2 separate regions of the Homo sapiens genome follow, and region 2 is reported to be linked to region 1. The links are microRNA targets in miRTarBase. Many come from high-throughput screens and were not tested one by one. Region 1 holds a microRNA gene; the other region holds the end of a gene's coding sequence.

Region 1 (4,152 bases):
TAATGGTTATAAGGGATGTGGAATTAAATGTATCTTAATCTGCCACCTGGACCCATTAAAGTAAGCCCCTATGGTGGTTTTTTTTTTTTAATTGCCATGGTTAAAACCATAGTTGCTAGCGAAGGTGACATACTTAAGCTTTTTGAACTCTCTTAAAAGAAAACAGAAATTTAATGATGTGTCTATAATGGCAAACCAGATACCTAGAATTTCCATGTTATTCATAGGGTGAATAACACTGGCGATTGTAGAGATTTGAGAGTTCTTTCAAAACAGGAGAACAAAGGGAATAAGCTACAAAGCAATTTTTTTCTTTGTAGACTTAACTGAATAAAAATTATTTTTATGTCTCAAACATCATATGAACAAATTTAGTTGGCAAATGGCAAGCTAATAATATTTTATAATATAGGATATTAATATACTTAATATTACAAAAGTGCTTCATAATTAGAAAAGACATAAACTAGAAAAATGGGAAAAGGGCATGAATAAGAAATTCAAGAGATACAAATGACCCACACACTTGAACAAATGTTTATTCTTTCTCATAATCAAAGAAGTAGAAATTAAATGAATACTTTGAAGCCAACTTCTGAGAAAGCATAGCAAACAAGAAAGCTAGTGCTCAGCTTTGTGTGGTAACGGCACTCTCGCTCTTAAGAAGGTGTGTTTGCTCCCTGTGGCTGCTCTCAGGCAGGGCCACAAACTTGGTGGCTTAAAACACCACAGATTTCTTCTCTTACATTTGAGAAGTCTGAAATGGGTCTTACTCAGCTGAAATCAAGGTGTTGGCAGGGCTGCAGTCCTTTGTGGAGGCTTGGGGGGATCTTGTTCTCCTGTACGGGGTCCTGTGCTTGGTTCGGGGTCCTGTGCTTGGTCTGGGATCCTGTGCTTGGTTCGAGGTCCTGTGCTGGGTCCAGTGCTCTGCTTTTACCACCTTGAAGTTCATCTGGAAATGGCACTGGCTCGCCCACACCATATAGCTGACTCTGGTTCTCCCTCCTCCTCACTCGCTCTAAACCTGTGTTTTTGGCTGATTTCTAATCTCTCTTTCCTTGGCCCTTCTGCAGCTTGCAGGGCCTTCTGCAGCTCTTGTCTGCCCCAGCCCCGGGGTCTGCCCATCCCAGTGCTGGGCTGTTCTGTTCCTGCCCTGCCTTTCCTCAGCCCTTGGCAACCCTGTTTGTTTTCTCCCTTCCTTAGCAGTGGAGAACATCGTAAGATCAATGCTGACTGCCTTCTGCAGCCAAGCCAGGCCATTTCATTTCAGCCGAGCCAAGTCTGTGTGGAGCAGTTCTTTTATTTTTCTCCTTTTGACTACCTCATGGTTTTCACGGATTTTTGTTCTCTTCACATTCAAGGATTTTTTGCTTTCAGAAAGTTATATTTCTCTGGAAAGAGTGCACCCAATATCCCTTTTGATTTCAAAATCTTAATGTGGAGTCTCTTGACTTGGATTTCTTTGGAAGAAACTGCTGAAGCTGCCATGTCTAAGAAGAAAACTTTGGAGAAAAATTTTCTTCTTAGACATGGCAACGTCAACAGTTTCTAAGCTCTTGATTCCGTCTACCCTGTCTCCATCGTTGCCTCAGTCATCTGCCTTACTTCTCTGCAGGGGTTTCTCCCAGCTTGCAAATGTACTCCAATTCTGAAATAACTAAGTCTATAGCTGTGCAAAGAGAAGTCTGGGCCCCTTGCTTTCTTGTGTTTGACTCCATCCACTCTCCAGAAATGAATCCCACTTCTCACTTAACCACTGACCTCCAAAGCATCGTATCATTTGTGTCAGTTGTCATATTTGTTAACTTTCACATAACTTTTGACATTATTTATACCTTTATAACCAGGAAATAATTTTAACTTTATTGTAGAAATAAACAATGGAGTATAATTTTTCTTGTTGAAGATAAATATCACCTCCTCTTCCTTTAAACATCTCTTCCCTTTGTTTTTGTATTACATTGGTTTCCCCCCTTTTTTTATTTCCTGGGTTGTCGTATTCCCTGTTATTATTTTTACCTTTTTTTTTTTAATGTGGATGTTTCCGGAGTCTGTATTTCTTGCCTTTTCATCTTCTGCCCTTTATTATTCTCAGCCACTGCCATTACTTCAGTTATCCATTCCCATGGTTTCCACATGCTTAGCTTCGGTTGATTCTTGCCATTTTACAGACCATATTTCCAACTACTTCTAGAATGTTTTGTTCCTTCAGCCTCAGTATGCCCAATTTGAACTCATGTTCTCTCTCCCCCTTCTTTCTTCCTTCTTTCTTTCGCTCTCTCTCCCTTCCTTCTTTTCTTTCCCTCCCTCCCTTTCTTCCTTCCCTCACTCGTTCTCTCTTGCTTGCTTGCTTTCTCTCCTCTCTCTCTTTTCTTTCTGCATTCTTCTCCCTCCCTCTCTTCCTTCTCTCCCCCACTCCCCAACTTCCAGGCTAAAGCAGTCCTCCTGAGTAGTTAGGACTACAGACATACACGTGCCACCGCGCCCGGCTCCGTGTTCTCTTTGTTTCCCTGCCTCCTGCTCTTCCACTTATCTTTGCATGGCAGGTGGGTGCACGCAGGCATGCTCTGCATGTCTTCCTCTTGGCCATTCCCCTTCTAGTTATGGTGTGGCTTTATCTACGCGTTCTGGAGCAGAAGCCTAGTCACAAAGCTATTTTTTTAAAACATTCATGATAATTCATTTCCTTTTATGTTTTAAAAATACTAGCTTTCTGTCTTTATTTCCTTACTAACTTACTTGGATGCCAGTAATTAGTTGTTTTAGTGAACACCACAGAGTGATATTTTGAAACTTTGGACTTCATAAAGTTGGATGAGCTCCAGTAGCAAAGAAGGAAGTGTTAACTAGTTTAACTGACAAATAAATGCTTCCCAGCTTGGTGTGCGATTGAGATTTTTGTTGCAAGTTTGTGAATCAATTTAACTGCCCCTGCCCTGGGGACTAAAGTCAGATACGTGCTTGTGGGAATCTTTGTCTTTCCCACACCACCCTGCATTTTAAAACCTCTTGTGTGGGACAGTCCCACCATGTAATAGCTGTTCTTCCTTACTCAGCTACTTTCCCTCCAGAGAGGCCAGTAGAAAATCTAGACTAGTTTTTTATAGTCTATTTTCATGTCACTTATTGAGAGCTACTGTTTTCTGTTAAATTGTCAGTAAATATTTTAATCAAGGAAAAGGGAGGTAATAGGAAGGAGAGAAGAACAAATCCTTAACCCTAGTAGGAACCTAATGAATGGGATTTGTTCTGGATAATTGCAGTAGTCCCCCAGCTAAAGAACCTTTTAAAAATATGTCAGATATACCCAAGAGGATTGAAATCGTATGTTCATACAAAAGCTTGTTCACCTGCAGCCTTCATATGCAATTCCTATGAATGTTCATAGCAGCATTATTCATAATAGCCAAAGTATGGATGCAACCCAAATGTCCATGAAGCAATTAATAGGTAAACAAAATGTGATCTGTTCACACAGTGGAATACTAACTATTCAGCCATAAAAAGGAATGAAGCACTGAGTCCTGCAGCCACACAGATGAACCTCAGATCCATGCTGAGCGAAAGAAGCCAGAAACAGGAGGCCATGTGCTGTGTGACTGTATTTCTAGGAAATCTTGAGTCACCATGGGCAAGATGCTATCACCTTTGTTCAGTGGCCAGAAGCGAGGGCACTAATATTTACCCTTGCCGGGGTCTACTAGATTGAAGCGTTTCCGCTAGGCCATAAACTTCCAACACGGTGACTTGTACATGTAGATATTTGATCAATATATAGCAAATGAATATTGATTTAAACAGAAAAAGGCAAGTGAGAGTGCTTTCTAAACTTAGAGCCCTAAATATATGAGGTTGTGGAATTAATAGATTCTGTTGTGTGTGTTTGAGGGAATTTAAAAATAATTTAGATGTTAAACAGTATATTGTGGAGGTGTTTTGTAACTAATTAATGACGGCACTGAATTGACTTCTAGGCCTTGCAGTATTAAAACATGTGCTAACACCACGAATAAAGGCAACTCACGTTGCTTTTGATTGCATGAAGAATTATTTAGATGCAATTTATGATGTTACGGTGGTTTATGAAGGGAAAGACGATGGAGGGCAGCGAAGAGAGTCACCGACCATGACGGGTAAGTGTGTTCACGCACC
Region 2 (4,000 bases), not on the chromosome of region 1:
CTCAGTTCACACATGCCTCCTCATCAATGAGCCAGGGCACATAATTAGTTGACCAGAAGGCTCGCTGGGATTAATTAGCAGCTGTGTGTGAAAAGCTTGGTTCAGATTTGTAGCACGAAGGATAGGGGTTCTAGAATGGCCACTTCCTGGATTCACAGTTCAATCACGCAGGAGGATCTCAGGGCTTGGCTGTTGAAGTTGCTGGGGGCTCTTGGCTCCTATATGGACCGGTGTGGGCATGTGCACATCCAGCTACCGCCGGCAGAGGGCAGCAGTACGCTGCGCGTGTTCAATTTGCATCCCAGATTAGCAAATCCCCAAGGACCTACATAAGAAAGAGGGTGTCCCAGCACTACCCTAATTCCTTTTCACTGGGTATCAAGACTGATCTGAGTCATTGCAAACACAGACCTTTTACATTATGTTGGACTTTGGCTCATCTGAAATAGAGAAATGAATACACAACTAGGAGCTGCCATCACAGACAGGAAGTAACTTTAATTAAATATTGTGAAAGTTGAAAAGTTTTTACAGCTTGAATTTTTGCAAAAAAAAAAAAAAAATTTAACAATCTCTACAGTAGTTAGGTTCTCTAACAATTGAACTGTACAGTGTGTGTCTATTCAAAAAGTTTTGATAAGAAGGTGAAAGGTTAGTAGATTTAGAGATGACTTCATTTAAGCTGCATCCTAGTACAATGTGAGGCCAGGGCAATGTTATGCAATCCAGTCATCCAGAAGCTGTATTTTTTCCCCCAACACTGAAATCTTAATTTAATTCTTCATTTCATTTTCTTCTTAAAGCCATATTCTGTATTTAGGGGAACATCTTTTATTTGTAAAACTTTTGTGGAGAAGAAAGAGGATCAGAGGGCCAGAATGTCTTTTCATCTAATCAATAGAAATAGAAGCAACAAAACACAAATTATACACATTTTAAAGGCTCTTTGGACTTTCAAGAAGAGTTCTAACCACTGCACATGGCTGACAGATGGGTAGTGTCTGTTGTCAAGGTCTAAGCCGGACACCTTCCCGGCTGACCGTTCATTCCTTCAGAAACAGTTAAGGGGCTCACCAGATAAAATATGGCTTTAACTTGTGTACATCTTCAGGCCAGCGCTTACCACGCAAATTCAGATAACCTTTCTGAGTACCGAGAAGCAATGCGTCCACCTTGCTTACATTTTCCAGTTTTTTTTATTATTATTAGTCATCATTATTATTTCTCACCATGAAAAACAGCTTTCCTCCCTCCCCTACCCTCCCACAACTCCCCTCCCCCACCCACCCCAACCCATAAAAATCGCACTCTTGACAGCCTAGTGAAAACCATTGCAAAATCCATATGGGGGCATGCACAGTTGCAGCATTGTTGTAAATGATTTCTTGCTCTACTAGAAAAAGTTACATTGTCTTAAGGTAACAAAACAGTTCTTTTGTGCTTTTCGATTTCTTTGTTTTTTTTTTTTTCTTTTTTTCTTTTTCTTTTTTCTTAGAATGTTAGTGATGACTGACAGTTCTGGTGCACAGTTACAATGTACAAGTGAAATGAATATGATTTGCATTGTTAAGGCATCCAATCTGCTGGTTTATATTTATGTGAAAGACAGAGGAAATATACAAGCAGACTTAAGAAAGAAAGTATGTTCATTGATTTCTATGAAGTTTCTCCCTAGAATTTAATGCACAAAATGCGTCACTCCAAAGGGAGAGATTCCATGCATATTAATAGAGTAAAACAGCATTAGGGTTGTTTTGTAAGCTTCCAAAGCAAAGGATACATTTTTTTTTAAATCTACTGAACTAAATACTACAAGAATAATATGCTACTATTTTTTTTTTTTTGCCATATATTGGAAAAAACTTCTTAACTTACAAATAATACAAAAATAGACAATGACTTTTGGGTGGAAATTAAAAAAACTGAAGCATGGTTTATAACAATACTAAAAATAACTATAAATGAAATGTTTAAAAATCACATTGAAACAGCTAATACAAGTGTAGGTGACCAAACAAATACGCACTTTTCACGTAGCAAACATACACAATAAAATAAATTGGGGGTGGAAGGAAGAGGAAGAAGGGAAAAGCAATGTACAAATTCGAAAGATAAATACATTATTTATATGGATATTTTACAAAATCCCCTTTAAAACAAAAAGCCTTTTAATTAACTTTGCAAGTATGTGCAAGCTAAAGGTAGTGAGCTTTTTTTCTTTGCAAAATACGCAGTAAAATCTTTTTGTGATATTGAAAAAATGTCTTAAGACATTAAAATGTATAAATAGAACAACAACTTTGGCAAAAAATCACAAAAAAAAAATCTACAGTATTTATAACTACATACAAAAACACAAGAGCAAAGAAAAAAATATCAGGCAAATGCATCCTCAGAGCTTTGCTGCATCTTTGCTATTAATTCTTATTTTTAAGAACACTTCCCAGATAATGAGAGCAAAAATTCCCATAGAACAGAAAACTATGTTTTGGAGGTCTCAACCTTCTTTTCCTTTCTCCACCCCCGGTTCCCTTTAACTCTTAATTCCAAAGCACTTAACCTGTTGTTTCAATCTATTATGTTACAAATGGTAAGGGTCGACTGATAGAGGCAGTATCTGGAATGGGAAAATCGAAAATACCTGCCACGTTGCTTTTATCAACTTTTGGAAGATAGGTATGAAGTCTGCATTTAGGACGAGTAAACTTTAAACTTGCAAATGGGGGAGCGTACGTGAGGTTTTGGCTTGTTAACTGGAGGGCAGAGTGTGGAATTCTGTGCCTGGACCCTGTTCCATGAAGTCTCAAAGGAGATTCTCACACAGTATGTGTGCCACCAAGCTCTCGAGAGGCCATCGGCTTCAGAAGAAACTGACTTAAGTAAAAGGAGAGAATGAGATCAGATTTAAATATGCAGTTTTAACAATCTGTCTAGAGGCACTGGATTTTCGAGTAGAGGGAAAAATGTGATCACTTACATCGCGTTTTAACTTTCCAGGCTGCATTTATTTACACAGTTGCTTAAGACAACAATACAAAAGAGATAAATAAGCTTGCACTGCTAAGGGGTGGCATGTTAAGTTAGATATTGAAAATGCACTGTCTGAGCTAACTACCATTTGATATGCTTTAAGGCGCAAAAGCCGACCCTTAGTTTTTCTAAAAAATCTAACTGGCATTCCTATTCTGTCCCATACAAGCTTTTTTTTTTTTCCTTTTTTTCTTTTTTTTTTTTTTTACTTTTTTGTAAATATCACCACTTCATTCTTCCTTTACACAGCTTTAAAAACATCATAAATTAAAACATGGAGTCTTATTTATAGTGTCCCTTGTATAGAGCTTTACGGTTTATAAAAGACAAATGATTGCAGAATTAAGCTTAAAAAAAAAAAAGAAAAAGAAAAAGTGGATTTGCTTTTGTCAATACAGAATAAATATATCCCCCAAATACTTGGGAGGTACAACTTTAACCAACACCCTGCACTTGCAGATCCCTCTTCCAATTTCAGTATTTGCAAGGTCGGTGATTTTGTTTGTTTAAAAATCTGCAGTTATTGTGATTCCTCTTAAAAAGGCCTGAGTTAAAAGTTCCACTCTGGGACTTGTATCAGATTACTCTCTGTAGCAGAATCCAACCTCTTCATTAATACAATTCTTCAAGGCAATTCTTTCACATAGGAGGAACAATCATGCCAGATATCGCTATGAAAGAAAAGACAGAAGTCAATGGTTTCTTTGCGTTCAAACTTCTCACTGAGAAAAATAATGAAGACTAAAAAAAAAAAAACACCCACACACAACTATGTTGTTCGACTATTAGCCACAAATTTGCTCTCATCTTCTCTGGAATGAATTTTCGTTATAAAATATACATGTGCTTTATTAAAAATTATAATAAATCAGCATGGGTATGTGTCTTTAACAGAACAAAATATCCTAAACATCTCTCCAAATCTGATTTCAATTTTAAGGCATAACTGGAAAGTTGCATAGTTTGAATA

What was found. Region 1 holds the annotated microRNA hsa-miR-4659a-5p (CUGCCAUGUCUAAGAAGAAAAC, at 1,482-1,503, shown strand). A microRNA usually pairs through its seed, bases 2 to 8, with sites in the 3' UTR of a target mRNA and lowers its output. Matches are read on the target gene's strand: a 7mer-m8 pairs with bases 2 to 8, a 7mer-A1 pairs with bases 2 to 7 and ends in A, and an 8mer does both.
Region 2: the mRNA of EBF1 is a reported target of hsa-miR-4659a-5p. Seed matches in the 3' UTR shown: 7mer-A1 at 1,843-1,849.

The regions. Positions count from the first base shown.
Region 1 is chr8:6,743,696-6,747,847 of GRCh38, forward strand. It overlaps MIR4659A (microRNA 4659a), which reads left to right and starts at 1,469; the gene lies at 1,469-1,549. AGPAT5 (1-acylglycerol-3-phosphate O-acyltransferase 5) reads left to right here. Exons shown (of 8, transcript NM_018361.5): 6 at 3,975-4,133. It overlaps MIR4659B (microRNA 4659b), which reads right to left and starts at 1,545; the gene lies at 1,473-1,545. RefSeq lists enhancers at 760-1,039, 1,070-1,149, 2,762-2,811, 3,413-3,707 and a silencer at 2,572-2,621.
Region 2 is chr5:158,695,442-158,699,441 of GRCh38, forward strand. EBF1 (EBF transcription factor 1) reads right to left here. Exons shown (of 16, transcript NM_024007.5): 16 at 479-3,701. The coding sequence ends at 3,670. Among named protein-coding and RNA genes, the nearest start is that of LINC02227, 290 kb to the left of the region's middle. RefSeq lists an enhancer at 2,330-2,984.